Homo sapiens: one gene and its partner. The protein of the gene in region 1 interacts with the protein of each later gene in a pairwise test. Each region holds a gene or a part of one and is shown on either strand. Other genes may lie near its edges.

The links.
Region 2: the proteins of RAB9B (region 1) and HPS4 interact in a two-hybrid assay, tested with the Homo sapiens proteins (one study listed by IntAct).

The regions. Positions count from the first base shown.
Region 1 is NC_000023.11:103,818,530-103,831,352, reverse strand, and holds the end of RAB9B (ras-related protein Rab-9B), read left to right. Parts: intron 1-4,274; 5' UTR 4,275-4,348; intron 4,349-5,526; 5' UTR 5,527-5,568; coding exon 5,569-6,174; 3' UTR 6,175-9,026; downstream 9,027-12,823. UniProt on the Homo sapiens protein: The small GTPases Rab are key regulators of intracellular membrane trafficking, from the formation of transport vesicles to their fusion with membranes.
Region 2 is NC_000022.11:26,480,784-26,488,026, forward strand, and holds the start of HPS4 (BLOC-3 complex member HPS4), read right to left. Parts: upstream 3,001-7,243; 5' UTR 2,891-3,000; intron 2,091-2,890; exon of another isoform or gene 1,963-2,090; intron 1,458-1,962; 5' UTR 980-1,457; coding exon 939-979; intron 1-938. Other genes in the region: SRRD (SRR1-like protein), read left to right, coding at 3,108-3,316, 5,240-5,280.

The DNA of each region.
Region 1 (12,823 bases):
ATGGATGTAGCTGATAACTTGTTAGCTCTGCAAAATGAATCCAGTGCGTCAGAGGGTTTCCGCGCTACGAAGCACCCACCACCAGCACCAACGCCAAGTATTGGGTTGTATTGGAAACACACTCAAACATTCAATCATTTCTCATCCGTGTTGAATTTTACATAAATATAGCCGCGCCCAATTCTTCAGTGCAATATTTCCAATTATTGTGCCAGCATTCAACAGTGAGTTGAGTAGCCCTTACCAGTGTGTCGCCACAAGATGGGCTTTCCCCACAGGTCCAACCATGGCTCCTCCCCTGTACAGACTTCCAACAGTGCCACTCTCATCCAGTGCCTAGCCCTCCCCAGTTGCTCTTCCCCTATCGATCCCTGCAGTACACATCCCTTTCAAGACTTGCCTCCGAGCAATCTGCACTACTGATTTTGAGCATCATTCCACTCCATGGCAACTGAACTGATGCGAATTTGCTTTTCTGCCTCTCTTCTCTCCATCATCATACTAAAATGTACTATTTTCAAAGGTTCAACTTCTTTTTCTTCATTGTACTGCCTCCTCCCCCACCTCCACTCCCACCTCTAAGCATTCCCAACTAAATACAATAATTTGAATAAGGCTTTGTGGGTACTGCAGATTCAGAAGGTTTCAAGTGTGTTAAAGAACAAAGAGCTGGGGAGTATTGGTTATGGAAATTCCTAATTCACCTTACTCTCCAAGACTGAGACCCTGATGGGAAAAAAAAAAGTTAGTAAACTATCCTTAGAGCATGCTCATTAATGAGTTTGTGGGGGTAGGAAAGGGGAATTGCGTCTCTCGAATATTTTACTCAGTTAGAGTCAGATCTTTCTCTGAATGGGATCAAAATCAGAATAAGCGTTTTGGTCCAAATGCTCGCCCGACAGAGGACCCATAAGGGATGCATACGTCATTTGACTTTCCTATTTACGTATTTAGTGTTATCAAAGAATTCATTTGCCTGCTTAATGTTACCTTGTTTAAAGGTTTGGATTAAATCCGGCATATTCTGGGGGAGGAAAAAATGATTTCATTTGCTTTTACACTGTGCTAGTTCTTTTTAATTTAAGTATGTACTAAAGGACATGACATTCATTTTCAAACAATGATAAATGATTGTGGAGAGGCCAGCACCCACCGACAACATCAACTGGATATCATTATTCTGCTCTTGTTTTGGGTAGGAATGGGGAAATGTATATACTTATTTTTAAAATGTGAGAGTAGGGGGAGGAAAACTGGAGCATTTCCCTTGACTTTCAACAGGTGGAATTCCCATTACTCCCCATCCAGAAAATGATCGAGTCAAGTTCATAACTTCTGCTCTTTAGTTACCTTATAAATAATAGTATTTTGGCATCTTACAGAACTATGGATCTATTGTACCTTGGCATCAATTCAGAGGCATTAATTCTGGGCACCTACCTAATCATTTAATTGGTAAACAAATATTTATTATCTCCATGGAGGATCCTGGTGCTGCACACTGAAGGGGCTTCAAAGATGTATACAGTGAGCTTACTATCTAGGAATTTAAAATTGATCATGTAAGAAAGACAGGAAAAGTTTGTTAACAAAATAAGTCAGTATAATGACATTATTTCAACTGTAAACAATGAGATCCTGAGCTTGCATGTTAATTTGTAAACTCCCTGAGGGCAAGACCTTGCCTTAAACATTTATTAATTCCCAACAGTATCTACATCCAATGGATGTTTGAGTGATGAAGCTTTGCAAAGTAGATTGAGTGGGGAGACACCAGAAGCAGGGAGAGAAGAACTTTCACAATAGATTAGATGTGAGAAATTGTGGGCCAAAATGAGGATGGTAGCACAGGACTAGAAAATGATACTTCAAGGGAAAATCAGCAGGATTGAATGAAGGCAAGGAGACAAATCTAAACTGTATTCATTTTTACTTCTAGAAAATAAATGGGAGTTGGAGACAGCAGAGGAGAGTGGAGGGTTTCCTTAGTAAGGACACAACACACAATAGGCACTGTAGTGTTTTCTCAAATATCAGTAGCAAGATTGGACCAGAAGACCCTGAAGGTCCCTTCAATGCTGAGATTCTGTGCCATATGCAGATGTTCAAGCTTGTTGAGGAACAAGGCATTCTCAAATATGGAAGAAAGAGAAAAGGAAGAATTCTTATACTTTCACTAGCAGGCCCTTTCTGAGAAGGGTTAATACTGAGCCACAAGGCCCCCACCAGTGCATGAAAGGAGGTGGAGGAGCCAGAGGAATAAAAATCTCAAACCAAATTTTTCAAAAAATGCTTACAAATCTTTGCAAACTTCATAAGCTTTTCATTCTCCCCCAAAATCCTGTTAAGTAGGGCAGGTATTATCTGCTCTATTTTTATGTAAGAAGATACTGAAACAGAAAGATTAAATGACCTGCCCAAGTTCATAAAATAAATGAATGGTGTAACAGTGATGAAGACCCTGGTGTCCTGATTACTGCCAGCTAGCTCAGTGCTCTTGACACTGAACCACATTGCTTTTCCTCTTTTTCCCTTGGCATAGAGCCTATAGGCCCAGAAGTTATGTGTGCACATAACCAAATAGGGAATGCACAAGCAACTGCAGCATTATCTCAGACAGTTATTAATACATCATCATTATTCCTGGAGCTGAGCATTTGGTTTCCATATTCACTCAGTCCTTGACCTGTCTATTGAGTTTATCTGCAACTGGGAGAATAGGGTCAGTGAGTCTTTTAATGATGTGAACGCCTGTTTGCTAGGAACTCAAGGAAGCTTGTGTGGCCTGGACGCTTAATACTAGCCATCAGAATCATGCCCAAGTTTGTACTTCTGTTGCTTTTCAAAATGAGAGTTCAAGAGTTTTGCTCTGTAAAATTATCCTACAGACCAGTATAAAAAAATAAAAAAGTGTGCTAACACTTGTTTCATCTCCATTTAAAGAAATGTTTGTTACTTGAGCTAATTCCAAAGACAGCAATTTGGGAGCAGGAAAAAGAGGACAAAAATTAGGAATTGTAGGAAACTTGAGAATTCTGTAGAGTGTATATAAACCAAGAAGGAGGATAAAGCCTATCCATTTAGGAGATATTATTTAAATTCATAATTACTGATTTAGATATCTAATGAATCCTTATTATAAGTTTTATCTATATTTAGAAAATAACATGTGATTATTAAGCAGCAGATTTTTTTTTAAAGCTTCGTTCTTCCTCAGTAAGAAATAACACTACACAGATCTAGGCACTGTTTTTCTTCTTAAACCAGTACTCTTGATGCTGCTTAAATAAGATTCTTGCCATAATTAATTATAATATTAGATGAATGTATATTTAAATTTAATAACACCAGCTAAATATTAAAACTGGTGTTTAAGACAGATGAACTGCCAGGTACAGCGGCTCACGCCTGTGAACCCAGCACTTTGGGAACATGAGGTGGGCAGATCGTTTGAACCCAGGAGTTTGAAACCAACCTGGGCAACATGGTGAAACCCCATCTCTACAAAAACTACAAAACTTAGCCGGGCATGGTGGTGCATGCCCGTAGTCCCAGCTACTCAGAAGGCTGAGGTGGGAAGATTACTTGAGCCCAGGAGGTCGAGGCTGCAGTGAGCCATGACTGCACCACTGCACTCCAGCCTGGGTGACAGAATGAGACCTTGTCTCAAATTTAAAAAATAAATAAAGAAAAGAAAAATGACCTAAACTAATTAATAAAATAATTAGCCAAGATAATATACTTTATTGTAAACAGGAAGCCCACAAACACAATTTTTTTCTGCTCTCTAATTATGTGGAATCAATTGCAGAGACAACCTTGAGACAGACTGGTGAGTGCACTAACAACTTTCTTGGAGATGGGAACGTTGGTAGGTATAAAAGGAAGAAGTTTCATCTCCGACTTAGGATTTCAGCATATCTTAGATTGCTCTGTACTTTCCTTTTCCTGAATGTCATCTATTGTGAATATCATCTTTCTTTAATTTGCTTTTACTTTGAATGGAGAATTCAATTGAGAGACAATATAAAATGTAAAAAATTATATAAATTACAAATTAGGATAAGTTAAAGTTCTTGGAATAAAATTATTTTGCTTATGTTAAGCATAGGTAGCATTTTGAACTTTTATTTTTGAAAAGCACCCTCTGTAGGTTACTTGAGGTTGCTGTGGGTTCTTTTTTTTTTTCTGACTTGAATATATTTTTATATAGAGCCTTAACGTTATTTTATTATAGATTTTTTTAAAATAATGTTTTCTATTCTGTTTTATAGCACCCTAAAAAGAAAGAATAAAACAACAACAGGAAAAAAAGGAAAATATTTAAATTGTGACAAAAACCCACTGGGTAGGTATTTCAAGGGGGCACACTGTGGATTTGGGATATTTTAATATTTGATCTCTTAAAAATGAATATTTAGAAAAATATATAGCTAGTACATAGGCATTCCAAAATCATTTTAAGGGCTACTAAATTTTGTAAAATTATATTCAAATGTGTGTGCTTCCAGAAACTGTTTTGCATGCACTCCTTCGATTAGTGATTCGTTTTCATCCCTTTGGGTCTATTGTATAAATATCATCCAATTAACCTCATCACCGTTGAGTTCCCACAATAGACCTAGTGGGAAAGTACCTAACAGAATATAGGAAAAGGTAGTATTTGTTCAGTAAGCATTTGATCTTTTTATTTTAAGACACATTCTAGGTGTTCCATGTGTAGACATGTTGTGGAGGTAACAAGTAGGGTACTGTATAAATATTAGCACTTTAAATTTTGCAGTATGTTTTCAAATGTTGCTATTATGGAATTAAAACCTGAATCCAAAAACTAATAAGCTATTCAAGATTTCCTTCCTTCATGACAGCTGTTATATTGATATCAGTCAATTGTCATCAACTTAAATGCCATTGTTCCATGAAGAAAAAAATATAGAAGATCCTTACTTGAGAGGGTGTTCCTATCAATGCAAGTATAATGGGGTAAATGCCTGAAGAAACGTAACCTTGTTCTCTCTTTCAAATTCTGGGGTGCAGTCTAATTCTGGCCCAGACCTCTACCGACAGAATCAAGAATCCAGTTTATGTAGCTTTCTCTTCTCAGTAATTTTTGTATCCATCAGGAGCAGACTTCAAACCCCAAGTCAATTTCATACTATTTGTCTATTGTTTGGAACTGTCCAAACCGGAAGCTAAAGTTGTCACACATTTGAGTGGCATTCCTGTTCTAGGCTTCCTCTCCTAGAATTGGGTCAGAACTGAACCAAATTACAGGACCATCTGCTAGTCCATTTACCCATGGCACTCAGCCATTTTCCTGGCACAACAAAAGACCTCAGAAAAACAAGACCTATTTTTCCCCTTATGCAAAATTAGTGTTATTTCTTCTGCTGTACTACATCAATTAATGAGCATAAATCAGAGAAGTTGAATGAGAAGGCCTTATAATTCAGAGAAATTTGCTATGAAGTTGATTTCAGTTTCAGGTTTAACTGTTTTCCCTCCTACTTTTCCTTTTATTTTCAGGTTCTCTTGGTTACAAACTCCTTCCCTTCTGGTGCTGCAAAAATGAGTGGGAAATCCCTGCTCTTAAAGGTCATTCTCTTGGGTGATGGTGGAGTTGGGAAAAGTTCGCTTATGAACCGTTACGTAACCAACAAATTTGACTCCCAGGCTTTTCACACCATAGGGGTAGAGTTCTTAAATCGAGATCTGGAGGTAGATGGACGCTTTGTAACCCTCCAGATCTGGGACACTGCAGGGCAGGAACGTTTCAAGAGCCTTAGGACACCCTTCTACAGGGGAGCAGACTGCTGCCTCTTGACCTTCAGCGTGGATGATCGGCAGAGCTTCGAGAATCTTGGTAACTGGCAGAAAGAATTTATTTACTATGCGGATGTGAAGGACCCTGAGCATTTCCCCTTTGTAGTTCTGGGTAACAAGGTAGACAAAGAGGATAGGCAAGTGACTACTGAGGAGGCACAAACCTGGTGCATGGAGAATGGGGATTACCCTTATTTAGAAACTAGTGCCAAAGATGATACTAATGTGACAGTGGCCTTTGAAGAAGCTGTCAGGCAGGTGCTGGCTGTAGAGGAACAGCTGGAGCATTGCATGTTGGGTCACACCATTGACTTGAACAGTGGCTCCAAAGCAGGGTCTTCGTGCTGTTAAAGATAGGGAGCCTTTTAAAAATGTGCCCCAAATTGATCAGTCAGTAGTGTAAGAATAACTGTGCCCCTCTAAGAGTGCACACACACGCACACAAGAGGGTAAGAGACAAGGTTCTGATTGTGAAACAGAGCCTTTCAAATTGAAGTGTAGATTGATTTAAAAAAATTAAAAATTAAAAAAAATGAAGCTCTATCAAGCCAAGTGTATTTTGCGTGATTTCTGCTATTTCCCCTTCTTGTGTGTCTCAGGACATATCAGAAAATTTTAGTCCTGAGACAGTTAAATATTTTTTAAATCACAGTTTAAACCTAGAACCCAGCTGCATGAAGGAGTTAAAGAGCTACAACTATTTCTTAAAGTGTTCCATTAATCAACTAACAAATGTCACTATCAGACTCTTGCCAAGCAGTTTCTGACATTTCTGCCAAAGGGGAAAAAAATCAGACTTTGAGCTGTATTACAATAAAAATAATAATGCAAATAAGGATTCCTAGGCTTGAATTAAAGAAGTTGTAATGATTAGGAGTGCAAAAGTATAATGATATACACTGACTTGTTTAAATCCTTATGTATGGTTCGCTCCCATCTGAGCTTTTCAAAAAATCCCATCTCAATAAGAGATACTCTAATGACACTGGCAATTGATTATACTTCTTGTGTTTGAAGTCATAGGATACTAGTGAATGGATTATGCTTAAATATGCCAACCACCTTTGCAAATAAATGGTTGGTCTGCTTTTAATTCCTAAGTCTACTTTTGCTGCATAGAGATGTTGCTTCTCTGACAACCTCTTACCAATTTAGCAATGCTGCTTAGTATATGAATTTGGATGCAGTGCTCTCTGCTCATCATTTAGATGGTCCTTTGATCCAACATGCTGGGCTCATGGAGAAGGCTTCATAAAAGATTGGGGGATAATGAACTTTTCTCACAAGGCTCCTTAACTCAAATATTTATTGCAGAAGAAGGAACTGGTTTCTTATATGTTGCACTGTATGTTCAACTAGCCTAATTAGGACATTGAAAGTGACAGAAGAGCAGATCTTAACCCAGTGTTAGAATGAATTTCCCATAAACAGAGTTGTCCAACAGTGGAATGGACTGCCTTAATAGTGAGCTCCCTGCCTCTGAAAATATTCACTGGATGACCATCTGTTAGAATACCATAAAAAGATTTTCTGTGCTGGCTACATGTTCAATATAAAGTCCTTTCTGGCTCTAAGTTCTATGAATATATAAACTACATCAGTGCCATGCTGTGGTTAGATTTATCTGATGATAACAGCTAAGACTATGGAGAGGGACTTTAAAAATTCTCAAACCATTCTGTGATCAATCTTTAACAGCAACTACATAGCTCTTCCTTTTGCTTTTGCACTGTGGCAGGAAAAATTCTTGAGCTCTGAGTAATCTTTATGTGACTGATAAAAAACATCTTAAAGCTCCCATGTTAAAATATAAAAATGGTTTGACAATTTTTGATTACCATGACTGTCAGTTATATACTATATTATGAATATGCAGTGTGGTTCTTGTTGGTTGATCTGTTTACCCTGCATAGATTTTAATCTGTACTTTAAAACATCTATGATAAAAATAGTGACAGACAGAAATTACCCCAAAAAGAGACCTAGGCCAGGAAGGGGGTGGGAGCTTTCATAGGAATACAGCCTAGAACTCTCCATTGTAGCCACGTATGGAATCAGCCTTACTTACATGTAGGACCTTTGTGCTTTAAGAGCTCTGGGACATATTGGCCAAATAGAAAAGAAGAGGACAGTATTTCAACTCAGTCATACTCAATATTTCCAATTAAGATATAATCCTGACACCATTGTTCAATTAACTTTGACGCCAGAAGTCAAAGCCAGAACTGGGACCCCACAGCTCTTAAGTACTGGTCCCTATCCTGCCTATGCCTATAGCCAGCCACACTGGTTTCCAAGTTCTGTGATCATTTTGCTACAATCATGTTAGGGTGAAAATCTGTACGTCAGAACTGTTAAATGCTAATTATTTTTAAGTGCATGAGACCTGGGGCCTTCTCTTTCTACTTGCACTCTGCTTATACTAGTTTCTATTTGTAGATCTCAGGCCTTCATCATAAAGACCTCTATCAACTCACAAAAGTATTTGTCTCTATTAGAGTGGCATGTGGTCATTTGAGTAAAAAAAAAAAAATTACATGGGTATCGGATTCATAGGCATCCTGTCCATCTAAGACAAGTGTTAATTTTATTGGCCCATCAGCTGGAGCCCCTTTCCTCTTAGCCATACCATTGTTTTCTACCAAATTACCACTCAATATCTTAATGAAAGCACTCAACATTAAGTGACATAAACAGTGGCATTTGGGTAAGCAACACTCAGTGGGGTGCTGACATACAGTTTGGGTAAGATTAAAAAACACCAAAGGCTGAAATCTGTGAGTACCAAGAACTGTGCATATAGGTTTAGAAATTGACTGTGTACCCTAGAATGTGCAGTGTAATATTTTCAATAGGTGTTTTTTTAAAGAACACTAGATTTTTGGAATAATATATTTCTAATTAGGACTATACTGTTTTTCAATGGTCTGTTAAAACATCATACAGAATATTTATTTAGTTTATTGTCATGTATTGGCTAACTTTCAGGGGCCTCAGATTCCATATGTCTTCAGTGGATTGATGAATATCAGGTTAATTTGTGCCTGCCCCAGCCATCTCTACTTTATTCTGAGGTATTCCACAATCCTCTTGTTGCAGGTGCTGCTAAAAAAAACTCAAAATTGTGTATCAAATATTTTCTTTCAACTGTAAAAAATCATCTGTGTTAAAGTGAATAAAAAGTGCATTTTGAATAACCAGCACACAATGTTTGTGTTTATTCCCTCCCTTTCTCTTTTTGAGAAATTGGTGGGTGTGATGGACAGTACTTATTAATCAAGTCACTCTTTCAGGCTGCACTGGATGTGGCCTCTGGATCATGTTTCATGTGGTACTCCAAGCAGCCACTATCTAGTGATCAGATATTTCTATACTGATTGTGAAGCAAACTCTAAAGATTGGGGCAGGGAGGTCCTTTTTATTTTATACCACTTTCTTTCTATTTATTTAGTTATTAGAGACAGGGTCCCTCCATTGCTCAGGCTGGAGTGCAGTGGCGCAATCATGGCTCATAGCAGCCTCAAACTCATGGGTTTAACCACTTTCTAATGCATGACGTGTATTGGGACTGGAAATTGAATCTTAACTTTCCACTTTATTTCTTTATTATAATTTAAAACCATTACTTAATGGATACAATGTACACTATTCTGGTGATGGGTACACTAAAAGCCCAGATTTCAATCTGCAATATACCCATATAACAAAACTGCACTTGTGCCCCCTAAATTTATACAAATAAAAGAAAAAATATTATAATAAACAACGTTGCATAAAAAATAAGATAAATGTTAAACCATCAAAAAATATAAACAGAGTAGACATATTCCCTTTATTTTCCTGACTGGTGAATTGTCCAGACCTTAGGAAAACATGAAAATATAGGTGAAACAAATAAGAAAAGCAAAGAATAATTTTGTTAAATATTCTGTTCTCTTGCCTCTCACATATTGGATTTTAAAGATACATTAGCACCCAATGGCTTGAATATACATAATGGCGGTTTTAAAATTATGGACACAAATCTTTCCACAGCATATATAGTTTCATTACATTGATTCCATCTGCCACAGATTTCACTCTCTTCTCTCTGTCTACTTTTGCCTGTTGCAACTTTGGGCAGTTGAAATTGGGGGTGGGGAATTTGTTGGGAAACAGATTTTTTTTTTTTTTTTTTGCCACATGTACCATTTCCATCTCTGAGGATTATAATTTAACACATTATCAGACCATGCTTCAAATGCAGCACCCCAAATCATTTTGACTAGTCTATAATGATGCAACTTTTAGAATATAGAAAGTCATAGATTTATAAGCCACTTAATAAGGATTTGCTCATTTGTAACTGATTATTTTTTTTTTTGAGACAGGGTCTCGCTCTTTTGCCCAGGCTAGAGTGTAGTGGCCTGATCTTGGCTCACTGCAACCTCCACCTCCTGAACTTAAGCAGTCCTTCCACCTCAGCCTCCTGAGTAGCTGGGATTACAGGCATGCACCAGCATGCCCAGCTAACTTTGTGTGTGTGTGTGTGTGTGTGTGTGTGTGTATGTGTGTGTGTGTGTGTGTGTGTGTGTGTGTTTGAGACAGGGTCTTGCTCTGTTGCCCAGGCTGGAGTGCAGTGGCCTGATCTTGGCTAACTGCAACCTCGGCCTCCCGGACTCAAGCGATTCTCATGCCTCAGCCTCCCTAATAGCTGGGATTACAGGCGCCCGCCACCACACCTGGCTAATTTTTGTATTTGTTGTAGAGACAGGGCTTCACCATGTTGGCCAGGCTGGTCTTGAACTCCTGGCCTCAAGTGATCCACCCACCTGGCCTCCCAAAGTTCTGGGATTACAGGTGTGAGCCAATGCACCGGGGCCCATAACTGATATTTTAAAAACAGAATGCCAACTTCCTGTCTTTAATGTTTTTCTGCCTCATTCATAACCCAGTGGGAAATCTCCTCATGATGTCTTAAGAAACAGTACGGTCTCATTTTTTGGAAATGGTTTGGCGATAGTCCTTCCAGAAACAGGAAGGTGTGGAATACATAATTTGTCTTCCATCTTGTAACTGTAGTTTTAAAACACACTGGAAAATCGAGGTATCAATTTGAGTAATTTCAAGCTGGGAGGTGGGATGGACATCTCTACTTTCATTTGAATTACCCAAAGTAGATCTTGCAGCAATTTTTTTTCCTCAGTGATCTAGATAATCATTTCACTTTTTTTCTCTCTTTGCTGTGGAAATGTAAAATTTACTACAGTGCAGTGTTTTTCTTACACTTGATTTTAGGGCAGATAAACTGTAATATACTGTCTTAGCCCATTTGGGCTGCCCTAACAAAATACCATAAGCTTGGTAGGCTATAAACTACAGAATTTCATTTCTCAGCTCTGGAGGCTAGGAAGTCCAAAATCAAGGCATCCGCACATTCAGGGTCTGGTGAGGTCTTGATTTCTGGTTCACAGATGGCACCTTCCAGCTCTGTGGAAGGGGGAAGGGGTTTCTCCTGGGCCTCTTTTATAAGGACACTAATCCCATTTATGAGGGCTTCACCCTTGTGACCTAATCACCTTCCAAAGGCCCCATCTCCTTATAATGCCATAACCTTGGGGGGTTAGGATTTCAACCTATGAATTTTGGAGGGGGACAAAAAGATTCAGAGCATAGCATACACCTTTTGATAAAACGTTAATGTGCATGATTTGGGATATTCACTAATGTTTTCTTTTTCCAAACTGGTCATTTTAATTTCCTCAAGTTTCCATCACCAAAAGAGCTCTCATTCTTTACTACTTTCTCTTTAAGAGAAGGAAGGGATAATGACAAAAGCTAGGCATGTTTATGGAATAAAGGAAAAATTATTAAATGCCTTCTTACTGATATGCTTGCCAAAACTGGTGAGCAAGGATCTCTTATTCTGCTAGTGATGGTAGTGGTAATAATGTGTGAAAGGGTTTTTTTTTAAGGGGGCAAGAAGTTACTTAATATTTTCCCAGTGAAAATAAGCATCTTCACAGCTCAAGATGTGGCGTCGTCACCTGTAGTCATATAGAAACTGCTGCAGTGATCTTTGTGTCTTCATAAATCTCTTTGCCTTCTCCAAGGAAACACAGAGAATGATGATTCAGTTATATATAAATGTCTTTTTAAACAGTGGGTTTTGTGTGTGCAAGCATGTGTATTTTTAAGTAATCTGTCAGTTCCTTTCGTGCTGTATGAACTATGGGTAAATGTATAATGGTCTCACTATAACACTCCTGAATTTTAATCAGACCTGCCAAGCTGTGCCACATCTAGTTAACTGATTGATAAAAAGAATTGGGAAATGCTGCCTTAATGAAAGAAATAGCTCTTAATTCAACATTAGCTATATTGATTAGAGTAAAAATACAAATCACACTTTCCTGTGGTGCATTCATGAGGAAGCAAGAAACAGGCTCATATCATCTCTTTTCTCTTACGTTGTTCCTGGCTGCCTTAGAAACGACATATCCAAGGGTGTGTCCTGTAATATATTGCTCAACATAGAGTCTGTTAATAGATGAACAAGTGCCAGTAGCCTCTGAGTTCTCTCTTTTTCCATTTGTTCCCTGCTAGAAAACTTAGAGTGACCGATAAATGCTTTAAAATGTTCTTTTTTTCTGATTACAAAAGCCATACACATCCACCGTAGAAAAATGAAGTAATGAAAGAAATAGAAAAGCAAGATTTAAAAAATTAAAGTCATCTGTAATGTAATCCTATTAACCTGAGATAAGCAGATTTTAACATTTTAGTGTAGATTTTAATATATTTATGTATTTTTAAAATTGATTTGATACTGCACACACTGTAATCTTTTTTACTTAATATATATCTATAGTACTTAACTTTTCTCTAAGACATATATTCTTCTAAGATTATATTTGCTGTTTGCATAATATTGTATTGAAGGGTTTACCACAATTACCCATATTGCTAAACTTTTAATAAAACACTTATTGCTAGACATTTAGGTTGTTTTACAGCTGCC
Region 2 (7,243 bases), on another chromosome or scaffold:
GGGGTGTGCCTCTGGTTCCAGTTACTTGGGATGCTGAGGTAGGAGGATCACTTGAGCCTGGGGGATTGAGGCTACAGTGACCTGAGATCATGCCACTGCACTCTGGCCTGGAGGATAGAGCAAGACCCTGTCTCAAAAACAAACAAACAAATAAATAAAGCACCAACTTGGTCTCTTGGCACTGTCCTCTTTCCCAATACCTAAGGCTGGATGTACAACTGGCTGCAGGGTAAGCTCAGATCAAAAAGCCTCAAAAAAGTTTCAAAGCCAACTCAGAAACTCCATGTGCACCCCATCCTCCCCTGTCCCCACGTTCTCTTGATGAAAGCATCCCTGCTTGTGCGGGCACACGAAAGAAAACTTGGGTGTCATTTTGAACTGCTCCATCTTTTTGACTTCCACATAAATAATCAGTCACTAAATCCTGCTAATTCTAGCTAAACCTGCTTTTCACCTTCATCTCCTCTATGACTGATGTTTGCTAAACCTAATTATGGGAAAGGATTAACGCATTTAGGGTTGAGAAGGGAACTGGGTTTCAGACAGACATTGAGTAATACCCCTTGATACCCAGTCTGGCCAGACCTCTCCTCATGCTGTAATTCTCAAATGCAACCATACCTCATCTCTGCAAATTGAAGACTACAATATTCACATTATCATCAAAGCTCGCTGCATGATCAGGCTGTGGCTATCTTTTCTACAATCTCCCAGCAATGCCAGACTCATTCAAACATTGGGAGAGGCTTGCAAGGTTAAAACATGTTAGCTTTGGAGAGCGATGGCTCACGTGCTTGATTCAGCTGCTCTGAGGAAAATGGCATTTTTATTGTTATGTTAATAAAATTAACACAATCTGGCTGGGGATTTTCAATTAACCCCAAAACTCTAACCAACAGCCCAGCAAAAGCTATGCCATGGCAGGCCTTGTTACTCACCACGAGGCTGACTTTGCCTCTGTGGAGGTAGAGGTGGCCATCTACTGTGCAGTCATCCTCATTCTCTTCATTTAGGTTTTCTTTTCCGGTATCACTTCTTTCTCCCTAGCTGTGACCGTTCCTCTATCCCCCAATCCAGTGAATCTGGACGTGGTAGGTTTCAGTGTTTTCAGTCACAACTGCCACTTGGTTAGTTTTCACTCAGCATGGAAAGTTCCACTTCCCTTCCTTGCAGGTTCTTCAGTTTCATGTATATTTCCATGCCTCTTACAACTCAGGGAGAAACTATAACAGAGAATCCTAGCAGAAAAGTCAAATCCATTCCTCTGGTTTCCTAAGTATCACTGTGGCTGTCTGCAGAACCACCTCTTCAAGCTCCTCTCCAGGAAAGCCAAAAGTGGGAGATGCATGCTAGAGCTGGTGTTCTAAAGAAATTTCTAGCTTGTCTAGTTCAAACCCATCCTGAAGACTCTTATTAAACGTTTTGAAGTTTCCAGTTCAAACATCAGTGCCTTGGCTCTGAAATAAACACAAGGAATAGATATTTCAGCAACTCGTGAGAGAGCATGTGACCCAGCAGGATTAAACGAATGGTATATTTCAAAAGAGCTTTCTGTGAGGGTGACAATCATGCTTCAAAATCAAAGAGGGAGGCTTGCAGAGACTTCAGAGTAAGGGCTTTAGTTTCTCGAACAGTTAAGGGAAACACACCACAAGCTTCACGGAAGATAAAATCAAATGACAGGGTGAAAATGCTCTAGGTGTGGACAGCTATACAAATAAACCAGTTGCTGTGGTAATAATGGAACCCAAATTAAGGAACTGTCATCTTGACAGTCCAAAAGTAACCTGAACATGCAGAATTCCAGAGCAGGGCAAATTTCTAAAAAATGAAGAGAACTTTATCAAATGGCTTTCAAACTTCCACAAGAGAAAGACAGCTCAGTGTATCACGGAATTTCAGAGTCGGAAGGAACCCTGGCATCGTTTACTCTACTCTCCTGCACTCTTTTCCAAAAATTACCTTGGCTGTCTCTGCTTTACACCCTCCAGAGATGCGTGGTTCACTATGTTACATTTCTCCTTCCAACAAACTAAAATCTGCGTTCCAGATTTTACATCTGCCTCCCACTCGCTAGTCTGGATAACGCTCTGCAGGAAAACACAAAACAAGGTCTAATTCTTCCATGTGACAACCTCTTGGTCACTTCAAAACTATTGTCTAATTCTTACTGTCACTTTCTCCAAGCTTAATGCTTTAGCAACATGGTCTCAAATGTTTGCTCACCATTCTGCAATCTGTGGGTACACAATACAGTTTGTTAAAAGTCTCTAGAGACGACCCCCATTGAATATTTGACGGCCTGTAAAATCTCTATCTCTTCTCAGCTCTAGATATTTTGGATTGGGCCTCCACAGGACCACACTCATTGTATTCTATGGAGCATATTTGGGTGCCTGTGGAGGGGGTATCTCTGTTACTGGAACCAAGGACAGCAGCCTAAAACTCCCCATCCCTTGTTCCCAGAGGACTGGGCCCTACACTACCGAGGTCCTCTCTTATCTCTGAAAGGTCCAGAAGAGACCAATAATGGCCCTGGAGTAGGAAGAGACGTCGGAACATGAGCAGAAAAGGATCTGGTAGCCTGGGAAGTAATAGTAACAACGCGGGGCTGGGGCTGGTGATACTGCTGTGGGAAGGGGCCTCAGTGGGGCAGCAGGGCTGGAAAACGGACGCTAATGGCTGGAAAAGGGCCAGGAAGCTGCTGGGCGCAGCCCCCGGGGCGCAGGCAGCGACTGGTAACAGCACTAGGGCTGTGCGGTGTCTGGCCCCAGCTCTACGGGACTGGGAAATGGTGGGCGAACGCCTAAGGATTAGGCGGGGTCGGGTCACGCTCTAAGCTGGGGGCCCGCCCCTCGGTATCCCCGCGCTCCGAGCGCCGCCCACCCACCGGAGTAGCCAGGCATCCCAGTGCTCGGGGTTCGGGACTCTGGACCAGAAATGTGGGCAGCAGCTGGGTACCTGCGACTTCTGCCCCGTACCTGCGCGCGCGGCAGAGAGGCCTTAGGTCACGCGCCGCCCCGCCTACCTCCCCCTCCAGCTCCTGGCAAGCCGGCGCGCGGCGATGACGTGCCGAGTGCGCCGCACGCCGCTGACGTCAGAGACCAATGGCTGCGGCCGCAGCTGCGGCGCTGGAATCCTGGCAGGCGGCGGCTCCGCGGAAGAGGCGCTCCGCGGCTCGACGGCCGCGGCGGAGGGAGGCGGCGCCCCGGGGGAGAGAGGCGGCGCCCCGGGGGAGAGAGGCGGCGCCCCGGGGCCCCGAGGCGGAGTTCGAGTCTGACAGCGGAGTCGTGCTTCGTCGCATCTGGGAGGCTGAGTGAGTGCAGGCTCGGCCCTGATGGAATCTTTGCGCCCATGGGCAATTCTGAGCCACAGTCTCCCCATCTGTAGAGTGGAGATATAATGCACACCCTTTAAGGAGTTATTGTGAAGAGTTAACGTAGGTAACGAGCTCATTAAAGATGTGGATTATAGTAAGCGCTCAGTTAAAGGTCGTCTTTCCTTTTATTACGGTTACAGCTGCGTGACCTTGGACAATTTATAATCTCTGTGCCTCAGTTTTCTCATCTGTGAGATGGGGATGAAAATAGTACATACGTAGGTTTGTTTTGAGGATTCAATGAATTAGTAAACGGAAACCATTTTCTGGCACGTGGTAAGCACTGTGCCAGTGTTTGCTATTAATATTATGCCGATGTTGATATTATTGGTGGTGGTGACACGAGGGAAGCAACATGAACACGTGACTGCTATCATCAGGCAGCTGCTATGTGCCTGACATTAGCTTAATCATTCTACACACTTTATGTTAAACATTGCAGGCATACTAGGACCCTGGTAGCTCACTGATTCTCAAAGAGACAAAGAAAATGTGTGGAACCAGATTTCAAACCCAGGTCTTTGTGACAAAAACCAGTGCTTCCAGCTTTCCATTATGCTTGTTGCTTATCCCAGCCCAGATTCTCACATACCTTGCTCTGTACCTTAGAAAGTACATAGAGAGTGCCTAATACAGAGGAAACACTCAATAAATGTTACTTATTATTGTTATTTAGTATTATTATCTTTATTCGCAGTTTTGTTTAGGCTCAATAAATAACAGCTTTAGTTAGCACTTAAGATCAGCATCCGAAGGGCCGTCACAAGGGGAGAAATTAGATTAATTTTGTGTGCTCCTCTCCCCTAGAATTAGGGTCAAGAGGCAGTAATGTCCCAGAGTTTACCTCTGAAGAGAAAGTTGCTGACCATTTGGCTCAGCCTGAATAAAAAGCACCTGCGATTATTTTTAAGCTCTCAGAGGATGCCAGTGAGAGTGAATGTGCCTAGGGGTTTGGAAAACTCAAGGCATTTTTCATATCCCTTGACACTGTCACGATCTCCTCAACTGCTTCAGTATTCCCCAGGAGCTCCTTGCTTCTCCCAACACCCAAGTGTGGTGCAATCACCATCGCTCTGAGTAGAGATTGAGCCAGCATTTTACACGCATATCTGTGTACGCATTTACCAGTTCATAAAGCATTCCTGTGTACATCAGAACTCTCTACCCTCTGTGAGAAACGTGCAGCAGCCTCTGGGCCGACTTTCAATTCTCTGTACTCCTTTCTGAACCCCATAATCACTGTCTCTGGCTGTGGCTTGTCAGTTTAAATCCAGTTCATTTTAATTCACTGTTGACTTTCTTTTGCTCTGGGTCTGTAAAACCAGTTGACTTGAATAAAGAAAGCCCAGACACTTGGTTTTGTCTCTTTACTTTCCCCTTAAAACTATTTATAATAACAAATACCATTTGTTGAGTACCTGCTATGTGCCAGACACTGGGCTAAGAATGTTAACCCATTTTATGCCTCTAAACTCCTCCGTGTTGGGAATGATTTTTATCCCCATTTTAGAGATGAGGAAACTAAAGCTCAGAAAGGCTAATTCTGAGCACTTAACAACCATTTATTGAGCTGCAATTCTATGCTAGGCTCTGTTGTAGACTGAGAATAGACCCAGATCTCTCTCTGGGAATCAAGGACCTCCTCCAGCATACTCTCTCCTGCAGTCTCTGAGCCCCAGCAGTATGTGCTCTGGCTCTGGACATATTCAACATATATCCCCCTCCTATCACTTGGTAAGGGTGGGCCCTGCATTGCAGGGCACCTCATTCTGTAAGCATTCAGGTCATGATCAGGAAAGTTACTGTTGGGGCAGCCCTGAGATGGGTGGGACATGACTGTGCCATTTTTTTTCTCAACAGGAAGGACCTGTTTATCTCTGATTTCTGGAGTTCAGCACTAGGTGGGTACCACTTGGCCAATGGTAGGGATTGTGGGGCAGAAAAGAGAATCAGTCCTCATTTGAGGACATTTTGCTTCACAGAGGGATAACTTGCTGGGTTCTAACGCCGCCCGCCCCTTACAGCTGTATGTCTTTTGGCACTTAATTCTGATCCTCAGTTTCTTTATCTGTGAAATGGAGATAATGTGTATATCCTATAGTTTTGAGAATTGAAGCTGTTTAGTTAAATGCTTGCCTGCTGTATACAAGGCAATAAATGTTGTCATTATTATTGCTGAAATTTATATTTATCCTGTTCCTTTTCCATGATATTACAATGTAGCCTTTTCCTCGTGCAGTGATAATCTCTTCCTAAACATAGTGTGTGGGTGGCGACATAATATTTATGCATGGAGTGGACATACCATAGGTATCATTTTTATTGTGGGACATTTAGTTTTCTTCTGTTGTTTTTCAGTTATTATTTTAGGACAGTGTCTTACTCTTCGCCTAGGCTGGAGTACAATGATGCAATCATAGTTCACTGCAACCTGTACCTCCTGAGCTCAAGTGATCCTCCCACCTACAGCTTCCCAAAGCGCTGGGATTATAGGCATGAGCCACCACAACCAGCCTTTTTAAGTTATTATACATAATTTTGCAATGAGTAACTTTATGCATAAAGCTTTTACCAAACTTAGGATGATCTTCTTAGGATATATTCCCAGAAGTAGAATTAAATGAAAGGCGGTGACCAACTTGATATCTATTGTCAAGTTATCCAGAAAATTTTCACCAATTCTTTTATCAAAATTGACCTGAAGAGCCAGTTTTTCCTGGCTTGGGGTCTTGTTTAAAGATGTCTTTGCTGCTTTTTTTTTTTTTTTTTTTTCTTTTGAGACGGAGTCTCACTGTGTCACCCAGGCTGGAGTGTAGGGGTGTGATCTCTGCTCACTGCAATTTCCACCTCCTGGGTTCAAACAATCCTCCTGCCTCAGTCTCCTGAGTAGCTGGGACTACAGGTGTGTGCCACTACCCCTGGCTAATTTTTGTATTTTTGTAGAGATGGGGTTTCACCATGTTGGCCAGACTGGTCTCGAACTCCTGACCTCAAGTGATCTGCCCACCTCGGTCTCCCAAGGTACTGGGATTACAGGTGTGAGCCACCATGCCTGGCCCTTTGCTGGTATCTTAAGTGAAAAGTTGGTATCTTATTGGAATGCACGGCTTTTTTTGTTTTGCTAAATTCAGTACCAGTACAATAAAAGGAGAGACAAGAGAACCTACCTCTACATGAGAAGACTTAAACAGAGTATAACTTTATTTTATTTTTTTGAGATGGAGTCTTGCTCTGTTGCCCAGGCTGGAATGCAGCGGTGTGATCTCGGCTAACTGCAACCTCCACCTCCCTGGTTCAAGTGATTCTTCTGCTTCAGCCTCCCAAGTAGCTGGGACTACAGCTGTGCGCCAGTACGCCTGACTAATTTTTTGTATTTTTAGTAGAGATGGGGTTTTGCCATGTTGGCCAGGCTGGTCTTGAATTCCTGACCTCAGGCGATCCACTCACCTAGGCCTCCCAAAGTGCTAGGATTACAGGCGTGAGCACCTGGTTTGTTACAACTTTAAAAGTACGCATTTCAGAGCATAGTCTACATTTACTAGGAGGGTCTTGTTAAATTAGAATGAGTTCACATTAGAGTTTTAGATGGAAACTGCCCTTGAGTGAAACCCAATTTCTGCTTGCAACATGCTCTTGGGTTTTGGGAGTCCAGGGGCCGGGACAGTTTGTCAATTGGTGGTGAATGTGACTGTATGTCCAGGCATGTTTGGGAATGAGGCTGGCAGCTTCTCTCTCTCTCTGAAGAATTGAAACCTTTTACTGCCCTGATCTCTTTCTCCCCAAATATGTGAACTTCTTTTGTGGATGATTTGGTTCACAGGGTCAGAACATGCCCTCTAACTGCATTTGGGGGCCTGCTCTTTC